3 linked regions of the Homo sapiens genome follow. The protein of the gene in region 1 purifies or fractionates together with the protein of each later gene. This does not show direct contact. Each region holds a gene or a part of one and is shown in the gene's direction. Other genes may lie near its edges.

Evidence for each region. The genes of interacting proteins can lie anywhere in the genome.
Region 2: the proteins of SAP30BP (region 1) and MAGEA9B purify together in Homo sapiens (affinity purification with mass spectrometry, with the first as the bait; one large-scale study listed by BioGRID). This does not show direct contact.
Region 3: the proteins of SAP30BP (region 1) and POC1A purify together in Homo sapiens (affinity purification with mass spectrometry; one large-scale study listed by BioGRID and IntAct). This does not show direct contact.

What each region holds. Positions count from the first base shown.
Region 1 is NC_000017.11:75,694,838-75,698,337, forward strand, and holds part of SAP30BP (SAP30-binding protein), read left to right. Parts: intron 1-3,500. UniProt on the Homo sapiens protein: Plays a role in transcriptional repression by promoting histone deacetylase activity, leading to deacetylation of histone H3.
Region 2 is NC_000023.11:149,584,660-149,588,606, reverse strand, and holds the start of MAGEA9B (melanoma-associated antigen 9), read left to right. Parts: upstream 1-1,147; 5' UTR 1,148-1,213; exon of another isoform or gene 1,214-1,245; intron 1,246-1,701; exon of another isoform or gene 1,702-1,804; intron 1,805-3,947. UniProt on the Homo sapiens protein: Not known, though may play a role in embryonal development and tumor transformation or aspects of tumor progression.
Region 3 is NC_000003.12:52,078,075-52,081,423, reverse strand, and holds part of POC1A (POC1 centriolar protein homolog A), read left to right. Parts: intron 1-3,349.

The sequences.
Region 1 (3,500 bases):
CCAGTTGCTTCCAGAGCCAACTTGTCACTTTTTCTCCCTGTGCCACTTTTTGGAAATAGCTTTATTGAGGTATAATTTACATAGAGTAAGACTTGCCAATTTTACGTGTGCCATTTTATGAATTTTGACAAATGTGTATAGTTGTGTTAGCCCCACCACAATTGTGATACAGAACGCACCCATCACTCCGAAATGTTCCCTTGTGCCCCGACCGTGTTACAGGTGATTCCCTCCCTCAGCCTCAGGCAAGCTGTGATCTACACTCTCCTCACTATAGCTTTGCCTTTCTTTAGAATTTCCTATAAATCAGGATCTCCCCACCCTGGCCCTACTGACACTTAGGGCTGGATGAGTCTTTGTTGTGGGGCTGTCCTGTGCTTTGCAGGGTGTTTAGCAGTGTCCTTGGTCTCTACCCACTACGTGCCAGAGGCACTCTCCCTTCCCCAGATGTGACAGTGATCAATGTCTCCAGACATTGCCAAATGTCCCCTTGGGGCAGAATCACCCCTAGTTAAGAACCAGGGATAGAAAGGGAACTAGTGTTTTTGTCTGGCTTCTTTCACTCAGCACGGTGCTTGCAAGACTCATCCATGTAGTTGGGCATGTCCAGAGTTTCTTTTTGTAGCCAAGTAATATTTCACTGTAGGGATACACCACAGTTTGTTTACTGATTCACCCATGAGGACACAAATGGATCTTTAAGCGGCATCGTTTTGATTACTCACCATTCCTCATTGACGAGTAGCTAGTTTAGTTCCTCTTACTGAAGACGTAATTAGTTGAAGGACAGTGGCTTCCATTCATGATGCAGTGCCTGTCAGCCCCTCTACCTAAGCTTTTGTCCACTCTGGTGTCAGGACTCAGGTTGCTTACCAGGTATGGGAAGTGTGTCCATGCATGTAGACAGCCCCAGCTTTTAGAGAACAAGCAGGAGAGCAGAGAAGCCAAACCACAGGCATCTGCAGCACTGCAGCCCCTTGACAGAGCCGAGCATGCACACCCTGTCTGTGCCCTCCAGGGCCTCGCAGATGCCCACGGCTGAGCCTGGAGCAGTGGTGCTGGTGTGGCAGTGCACGTGGGTTCTCTCTGTCACTCAGGAGCTGGAGATACTCCACCGTCCCCTGGGGCCCCCCAGCTCGCTCACTCCCTGCCATCCCATAAGCCCGTCCAACTAGCTGTTCCTGCACAGATCCCTCCCTGGCAGCTGTGGGTACTCTGGGTGTTTTCTGACTTGGGCACGCACCAGGGCAAGTCACGCTGACAGCTGGCTTCTCAAGTCCTAAGTGCGGCTGCCTCTGAGAACACACCCATCAGACCCAGGCAGCAGCCACAGACCCAGCGCTGCTTCCAAGAGACTGTGGACACATCGCTTTACTGGCTTGAGGCTCTGTCTGCTTACAAGAAATGTGGGGCTCAGCTGGTCGCAGTGGCTCATGCCTGTCATCCCAGCACTTGGGGAGGCTGAGGCGGGCAGATCACGAGGTTGGGAGTTCAAAAGCAGCCTGGCCAGCGTGGTGAAACCCCATTTCTACTAAAAATCCAAAAAAAAAAAAAAAATTAGCCAGGCATGGTGGTACTTGCCTATAGTCCAAGCTACCCGGGAGGCTGAGGCAAGAGAACTGCTTGAACCTGGCAGGTGGAGGTTGCAGTGAGCCGAGATAACACCATTGCACTCCAGTCTGGGCGACATAGCGAGACTCCATCTCAATTAAAAAAAAAAAAAAGAAAAGAAACAGAAATGTGGGGTTCAAGTCTTCCACATTAGATTCATTCCAGGACTCAGAAGGGAGAGGACCACTGAAAGATTGCTTCCAAACTCTGTGTTGTACACTTCTATCTAGTTTTCCCGAATGTGTTCCTTTATTTGCCAGTTACTTCCTAGGAATTATCTTGTTTCAAGCCCTGGACTGAGGAGGGGCTCCCCTCCTCTTTTTTTTTTTTTTTTTTTGGAGACGGGGTCTGGCTTTGTCACCCAGGCTGGAGGGGCTGGAGTGCAGTGGTGCAATCTCGGCTCACTGTAAGCTCCGCCTCCTGGGTTCACACCATTCTCCTGCCTCAGCCTCCCGAGTAGCTGGGACTACAGGCGCCCACCACCACACTTGGCTAAATTTTTGTATTTTTAGTAGGGATGGGGTTTCACTGTTTTAGCCAGGATGATCTCGATCTCCTGACCTTGTGATCCGCCCGCCTCGGCCTCCCAAAGTGCTGGGATTACAGGTGTGAGCCACCGCGCCCGGCCCCTCCTCTTACACTGTACACCATGTGAGCCCCAGAGTGTGGCTGGGTTGCTGTGGCAACAGGGTCACACCCTGTTTTTCCAAAGGCTTTCCTGGCAAATGCCAAAGGGCACTCTTTGTCTCTCTGTCACAAGCACAGATAGGTTCTCTCCAGCCCAGGGAAGAAGTTAACCCTGCTTGTTTATGTGCCTAGCGCCTGCCAAGGCCCTCCTTGCTTTTGTTGTTGCTGCTTGTGAGATAGGACCAGCTCCCCCCAGCTGATTCCACTCTCCACCAGCTTCTGCAACCTCAGCCTTGGCACTTTCACCTATTCCAGGGCTGGGAAGAAGGAGGAAGTTAGAGGAGACTTGAATTCCAGCCATATCTGGGTTTCACCTTTGCTTGAGGAGTCAGGAGACCAAAGGAAGGTGCTGGGCAAAGAGAAGCACCTCGTCTCCTGCTCTTGGGCTGCACTGGCATCTGGGGCCCACAGCAGGACCTCTGATCAATGTATCACCCAGTCTCTGTCCTCTTGCCGTCACCTAAAATGGCAGATTAGTGCTCTGTTCTTGGGGCGCTTCCAGTGAGAATCCACTGACAACAGTGAAAATCAACACATGAAGTCATGTTTTTAGGATGGCCCCAGGCTCGACTCCTGTCTCAGTGTATTTGCAGTCGGCATAGGCTTATCCTGCAGCAGCTGGACTGGCAGAGTCTGGGAGCCTTGTCCCCAGCCCTCCTTGGCACTGTGTTCTTTACAGTAACTGAAACTCCAGGCAGAGATCAAAGCACCTTGTCTACTAAGCAAACATTAACCCAGCATGGGGAGAGGAGAAGGGGCTGGCTGTGCGAAGCCAGCCGGGCAGCTCAGCAGTGGGTTAGCTGGGGCCTGCACACAGTAGGTGCTCAGTAAGTGCTTGCTGAGTGTTACTGGTGTTTTGTTCATTCTTTCTCTTCATCCTGCCCCACCCTGCCCTGGCTGCTCTTTGCTCATTGTATGATCCTTTTCATGAGAGAGTGTTTTGAAGAGCGCAGACAGAATCTTAACAAATAGCGCATTGTCCCAGCGATCCAAAGCAGGACTGCAGTGCCGGGGTGGCCCAAGGCTGCGGGGAAGAGGCTGGAGAGAGCAAGGCCTGCCGGACAGTGGCAGATCTCTAAGGAAATTGTCCCCTGGGGGTTGTGGTTCTTCCCATCAGAATCAGGCCTTTTGTTCTCAGGAATGAGGTGGGCTAAGAGAGAGTTGATTGGTTTATTTTTAAAAGATCCTCAGCTGATAATGGT
Region 2 (3,947 bases), on another chromosome or scaffold:
AGCCCTGGAGTAATATCAGGACACCAGGAAATTTGAGTTGATTGAGACACTATGGCTCCAGAGTTCTGCTAACAACCACCTGAAACAAACTTAGTAGGAGAAGACCAGCCTTCCAAAAAATTATTATTTTAATGGAATATAAAGAATGAACTAGGAATAGAATAGTAAGTATGTGTGAAGGCCACATACTATGAGTAGATATTAATAAAATATGTGTGCATATATATAGTATAAAGTCTAGAAATACAAACGAATATGTAGCTAAAGATATATACATGTAAGTAAATATAAGATATAAAGATATATATGCGTGTATGTATACATATAAGCATAGATGTATATAATGTCTAAAACAGGTATGTATATAAACGTAGATATAAACAAAATGTACAATACCATATATAATGTACACATACAGTGTAAAATTTATTACCATGTGAATGAGAATTAAAATATGAAAATCGCTAATCTGGACTCTGCTGTGTTCGATACCTTCAAAACACATGGCTTCTCCAAATCTCTTGCTGCTGCTCAGCCTCTTCCGTGTAAAAATAAATCTTTTAGGACAAAAGGTTTGCAAAGTCTAGCTCTGGCTGGGGAGGAGCCCCCATGGGATGGTGTGCATCTTCTCTCACAGGTCCTACAATCACAGGTGCTGCAGCCCCCCAGGGAGCATCTAGCCTGGGACCCGCAGCCATTCTCTGCAACGCGTGCAGCTGGGCAAATGCTCAAAGGTGACATAAACAGATCATCTCCCACACATCACTTCATCAAAGAGCCAGGAGCCAGGAGGAGAACCCTCCTGAGAGGGGACTGAAGGTCCAACCTCCCCACATAGAGGGGCCACAGAATCCAGCTCAGCCCTTCCTGTCAGCCCTGGAAGACCCTGGCAATGTTGTCACCCCGACCACACCCCTCCCCTCACTGCCACCTCATGTGACTGGGAGTCAGAGACTTGGTCCGAGAGGAGCAGACCCAATGGGCAGAGAATGGGGATCGAGACCCAGGCATCAAGGTCAGGACCCCCTGAGGGATGACTGAGGGCCCCTATCCCCATCCCCACCCCTACTCCGCCAGAACCCGGTTCAGCCCCTACTGGCAACCCAGGGAAGCTCCAGGCTTGGGGGCCGGATGTGACGTCACTGACGTGCGCACTGGGGGTCAGAGAGAAGGGAGAGGCCTCCTTCTGAGGGGCGGCTTGATACCGGTGGAGGTAAGCTGGCCGAGGCTCTGTGAGGAGTCAAGGTGAGGTGCTGAGGGAAGACTGAGGATGTCCCCACCCCAGATAGAGGACCCGAAAGAACCAAGTGCCGTCTCTGCTCCCAGCCCTGGACCACCCGGGGGCCGATCTGGGGCTGACTTGTGAGGCTGGGCCGACCCCCTCCCTCCGCCGCTCAAGCTGCTGGGCACTCTGGAGTGAGAGCTTGGTGTGACCAGGGCAGGGCTGGTTAGGAGAGGGCAGGGCCCAGGCTCTGCCGGGCATCAAGGCCAGGACCCTGAGGGAGGCTGGGCCCCCCCAACCCAACCATGACCTACAGCCCCAGGTTCCCCAGCCCCATCCTCAGCTCCACTCTACACCCCACCCCACCCCACCCCACCCCACCCCAAACTCCACCCCACCCCCCCAACTCTCCCGCGGCAGAATCTGGTTCCGCCCCTGTTGTCAACCCAGGGAAGCCCCAGGTGCCCGGATGTACGGCCAGTGACTCCCACACTGGGGGTCAGAGAGTAGCGGGGGCCTCGCTGTGAGGGGCGGGTCGATATCGGTGGAGGGAAGCGGGCCCAGGCTCTGTGAGGAGGCAAGGTGAGACCCTGAGGGAGGACTCAAGACCCCCCGCCCCAGATAGAGGACCCCAAATAATACAGCGCCGCCCCTGTGCCAGCCCTGGACCACCCCGCGGGGTCGGGCGTATCAGGCTGGGCCCAGGCTCTGACTGGCATCAAGGTCAGAACCCTGAGGGAGGGCTGAACGCCTCCACACCCCTAACCCAGCCACCACCACCATGACCTACAGCCTCAGGTTCCCCACCTCCATCCTCACCCCCCCCCCACTCCACCCCACCCCCAAGTCTCCCGTGGCAGAATCCGGTTCGGCTCCTGCTGTCAACCCAGGGAAGCTCCGGGTGCCCGGATGTAAGGCCTCTGACTTGCGCACTGGGGGTCAGAGAGTAGCAAGGGCTTGGTTCTGAGTGGTGGCTGAAGATCGGCAGAGGGAAGCGGGCCCAGGCTCTGTGAGGAGGCAAGATGAGACGCTGAGGGAGGACTGAGGACGCCCCCACCCCAGATAGAGGGCCCCAAATAATCCAGCAGCACCCCTGCTGCCAGCCCTGAACCACCCCGGGGGCGGACTTCTCAGGCTGTGGGCCACCCTTCGCCACCCCACCACTTAAGCCCCAGGGGACTCTGGGTCAGAGCTTGGTGTGACCAGGGCAGGACTGGTTAAGAGAGGGCAGGGGCCAGGCTCTGCCAGGCATCAGGGCCAGGACCCTGAGGGAGGGCTGAGGCCCCATAGAGGGAGTCACTGCCCCTGCAGTGGACCCTGGGAAGTTCCGGGCATGGCGGTCAGGCAAGCGGATCGTGATATCTGCATCCTGGGCTGACCGAGGGAAGGGGCTTGGTATCGTTAGCGTGGCCGCGGGAGAACAGAGGGAGGGCCCAGGTCCTGCTGGGAGACAAGGGAGGCCTGAGGGGACCCAGTACCCCAGGACAAGGGGCCCACCCCGCCCCTATCTGAGACCGAGGCCCCTCCTCATTCAGCCTCGGGAATCCGACAGATAGAGACTCAGGTCCACAGAGGGGTGGGGCCCAGCCCTCTAGGAGACCAGGGAAGGAACAAGACGGAGGACAGAGGGGACCCCGGAGTCCAGCTCAGTGGGGATCTTGGCCTGGGCGATCCCGGGCACGGTGGCCGCATGTGGTGCATTGTGGCTGGTGGGATCGGGTGTCAATGGGAACAGGGCTGTGGTATGAGGAGTGGGGCCTCAGGTGAGCAGAAGGAGGAGTCCCAGAGGCCTGAGGAAGGATTCACCAGACCTCTCATCCCAGACCTAGGAAACCTGCCCCTGCCGTCAGTCTTGGAAGGCCCCAGGCAGGACGGTGAGGAAGGGAAGTGCCCCCTCCACCCCCAACACACACTTTCTCAAAGAGGGTCTAAGGGAGAAATTGGCCTTGGTCTGCAAGACTCACCTCTGGTTCAGCAAAATGGAAGGGGCCAGATTCTGTCAGAAGCAAATATGAATACCTAGAGGACACCCAGACCGACGAGGCCCCCTGGAACCTGCTCCTTTGGTCAGCCTTGGGTATCTCATGCATGAGTGACCATGAGGTGGCCCCTCACTTCTGCCTCCCGGGTCTCCGGGAGGTGGGGGCCTTGGTCCGAGGGGTTTCCTCAGCTCAGCAGAGGGAGCCACACCTGGTCAGCACAGGGTGGAATCCAGGGTCTTCCAGGAGTGACGGGGAGGAAGTTTGGTGAGGACTGAAGGTAAGAAGGTACCTCCACGCTCTCAAAAAAGAAAGGACCTCACAGACACTGGTGTCACCTGTTCTCAGCCCCAGGTGGCCCCAGGCAGGAATGGCATGAGGCATGCTCTCATTTCTCCCACGTGACTGGGGGTGAGAGGTCTCAGGGAGGTGAGTACCTTGATCCCAGGGGGCACTGAGAGATCCAACAGAGGGCTCCACACCTGGTCAGTAGAAGGAGGACTCCCAGGATCAGCAGGACCCAAGGTGTGCCCCCTTCATGAGGAATGGAGGTACCCCCAACGCAGAAAGAAGCCACCCCACAGAGTCTAGGTGAACTCTGTTCTTAGATCTGGGGGCGGGGGGGGGCCTGATCAAGGATGGTGCTAAGTGGCAAGCTCATTTGTACCATGGCAGGAAGTTGAGGAACCCTCAGGGGGATGAGGCGTTGGTGTAAAGGGAGATGTCTGCTCATCTCAAGGGTTTGA
Region 3 (3,349 bases), on another chromosome or scaffold:
CGAGTCTGCGTATTATCATCCTGGGCCAGGCACAGGCCAGCGTTGGGGAGGTGCTTTGTGAGAGTTTGAGTAAGGGAAGAGCGAGGGCAAGGGTCAGCAAATTTAAACAGTAAAGATTTTAGGCTTTGTGGACCATACAGCCTCTGTCAACCTGTCGCTGGACCCAGAAGGCAGCCAGAGACCATACGGAAGCCAGCAGGCGTGTCCATAAAACCTTATTTACACAAAGGGGCAGCCGGCCGTAGTTTGCTAACCCTTGGTCTAGAGAAACAACAGAATACATTCGATGGCAAACAAGTGATTTTAAGGCCAAGGCTTTCTTGAGAAGGGCCATGGCTTCCAGGAAATTGCTGGTAACAGAGTAGGAAAAGGGTTCAGAAATGAGCCCCCAGGTGAACCTCGGCAGATGTGACTTTGAAGATAAAACTTCTGGAGCCCTGCTGACCACACCCCATGAGGCTTCCTGACACTGGCCATGAGGGCCTTGACTTGGGAGGCGGACAGTATCGGGTGAGGAGTGACAGTGCCCAGGCCATAGGGTCCTCAATCCGGCTTCCTGTCACTCCGATTTAGGGAGAGAGAGGTACCTTGTTTAAAGTTGAACCTTGTCTTCAGGGGATGGGCCACCCAGCAGTGACCCAGGCGAGTTCCACAGCATGTTTTGGGGCTGATCACTTAATGCTGCAGTGGCACAAGTGCCAGTGAAAGAAGCGTTGACAGTGAAGTGATTGGGGCAGCTTCTCGTGGTGCATCCAGGAGGAGGTTCTTGTCACTATGTCCTTTCGGTTCCTATAATATTGAGTTTTCATGGCTCACATGAATTATCCTTATGACCTTTGTAATAATTCCAAACCTAAATGTTTAGCCAGGTAAGAGACTGCTTTTCAGGGGGAGGTGACACATGAGGCCTGACAATGTGAGGGGGTGGGTGACCCTGGGGGCTGTCCATTCCCACTGTGGCTGAGGTAGGAGTTTCTGCTCATTTAATTCAGAGCAGCTAGGCCAGGCAGCCTAAACCAGGACAGCAGGTGCTGCTGCTGGGTGAGGACAGGGATCCCCTAGTCTTTCCTCAGGCTGCCTGAGTTTGGGCATCAGGGCTGGAAGTGGGATGGGACACCAGCAGGCCTCTCCTTTGGCATTCTTGATGGGGACAGAGCCAAGATGCACACTACCCAGTGCTTTAGTGTGCTCACTGCAGCCAGGCCACCTAGGCTCACAGCCTAGGCTTGTCACTGATAAGCTGTGTAACTTTAGGCAAGTTACTTAATCTCACTGTGCCTCAGTTTCTTCATCTGTAAAATGGGGATGATAAAAGCTCCCACGCTGAAGGTTTGTTGAAGTTTTTGGCACACACGAGCGTCCCGTGAAAGTCAGCTGCCAAGAGAAGCCCACAGAGCAGAGGGTCAATGATCAGGGTGAACCGCCCTGAGCCCAGTCCCAGGACCTCCTGCTGGTCCCCCTCATGTTTAAGCTCCACACCCCAATTACATGGAGGACTTAAGAATGTTCCCAGGGTAGCACCAGGTCCAAGGAAAGGGAATGAGCTGCCTGGTTTCTCCAAGGTCAGCAGACAGAAGGGGCCGCACTGTGGAAGAGTTGGACCCCAGCAAGAGGGAGTTCTGGGAGATGGGCCATCTTTCCTGGCCACTTTGCCCAGGCTGCCCCTCTAGCAGCCAGAGCCCTGGACTCCTCAACCCCTTCGTCAGTTTCCCTTTACCCTGCCCCAAAGCCAGAAGCCATGGACGCTTGTGTCAGGCAAAGCAGTTTCCCTTGTTGACACCTGGCACCTGACACAGCCTGTACCTCTTTGGGGACCTTCTGAGGGGCTAGGACCAGACCTCTGGCCCCTGCTCCCCTGTACAGAGCACAGGGTGAGAGGCAGTGTGATCAAGGAACTGTTTGGAAGGTCAGCGCTCATTTTTCCTTGAATAAATGAAAGTCGTGGCTTCCAGGCCATGGAGTGTGGACCCGGGGAGGCCGCAGAGGTATTTGCCTGCAGAGCGCTCCTCCTCACCCTCCAGGGCAGGTGTGGCCTTGTCTCCAGCCTGGTGAGGACAGGCGCTGGTAGCAGGATAATTCCCGGGCTGGACGGAGCATGAGGCGACGAGAGCAGCCTGCTTGGCTGGGCCCCGCTGGGAGTTGGGCCACTAGGCAGCAGGTGGAAATGGCAGTGGCCTGTGTACACCGAGGTAGCATGTATTTTCTGAACCCTCGTATGGGTATGTGGGGATGTGCTTACTTTTTGTTGTGAACCGACAGGTAAAGATCATATACATTCTGAACAAGGCCACGTGATATGGCTCCAAACCAGTCTGTGCCAGGGGTACTCCCCACACACCCCTTCTGCCACCTCAGATGCTCTCCTGCCCTCCTCCCACAGCTCCCGTGCAGCTGGGGAAGCACGGTGGCACTGTGATGGCCTGTCCTGGCTGCTCTGGGCCTGTGGCCCAGACAGACTCCCTGCAGGTGGCCTGCCAGCCCTCCTGCCTGTGTGTGCCACCAGCCCTGAGTGTGTCTCCACTTTGCCACTTGGATGCCCAGTGGGGCATTTCCATCATGGGGGAACCCCTTCCTTCCCCTTGTAGAGGGAAGGCACACCAGCAGCATTTCAGATTTCCATGTTTCAGCCGGGCGCAGGGGCTCACGCCTGTAATCCCAACATTTTGGGAGGCTGAGCCGGGCGGATCACGAGGTCAGGAGATCGAGACCACGGTGAAACCCCGTCTATACTAAAAATACAAAAATATTAGCTGGGCGCAGTGGCGGGTGCCTGTAGTCCCAGCTACTCGGGAGGCTGAGGCAGGAGAATGGCATGAACCCGGGAGGCGGAGCTTGTCGTGAGCCGAGATCGCGCCACTGCACTTCAGCCGGGTCGACAGAACGAGACTCAGTCTTAAAAAAAAAAAAAAAAAAAAAAAAAGAGATTTCCATGTTTCACTGTCTATGAGGAGTCACCATTTTCTGTGAAAATGAGGTCCTATGCTTTATTAAGAAAATTTGATTTTTAAGAAAAATATAAAAATTTTTAAGAAAGTAGGATTTTTTTTTTTTAACTACATGGAGCAAAGAGTGCCAGACAGCATTCTAATGTACAGAAATCCAAAAAGCATCCTGCTCTCCCAGGCCTTCTCCTGGCTCAGAGTGGGGGCAGCTGGGATCACGTGTGCTGGGAAGGGCCTGGTTGGACTTCTTTCTCCCTGATGGTGGCCACCACGAGGCACCTTGGCAGAGAAGGAACAGGGGAAGCTGAGACCAAACACAGAGATGACACAGCTCCTCTGAAGCTAGGCTGGAGGGGGAGAAACTGCCTTGAGGGGTGTTGGGCCTCATAAAAGCCTGTTTGTCTACT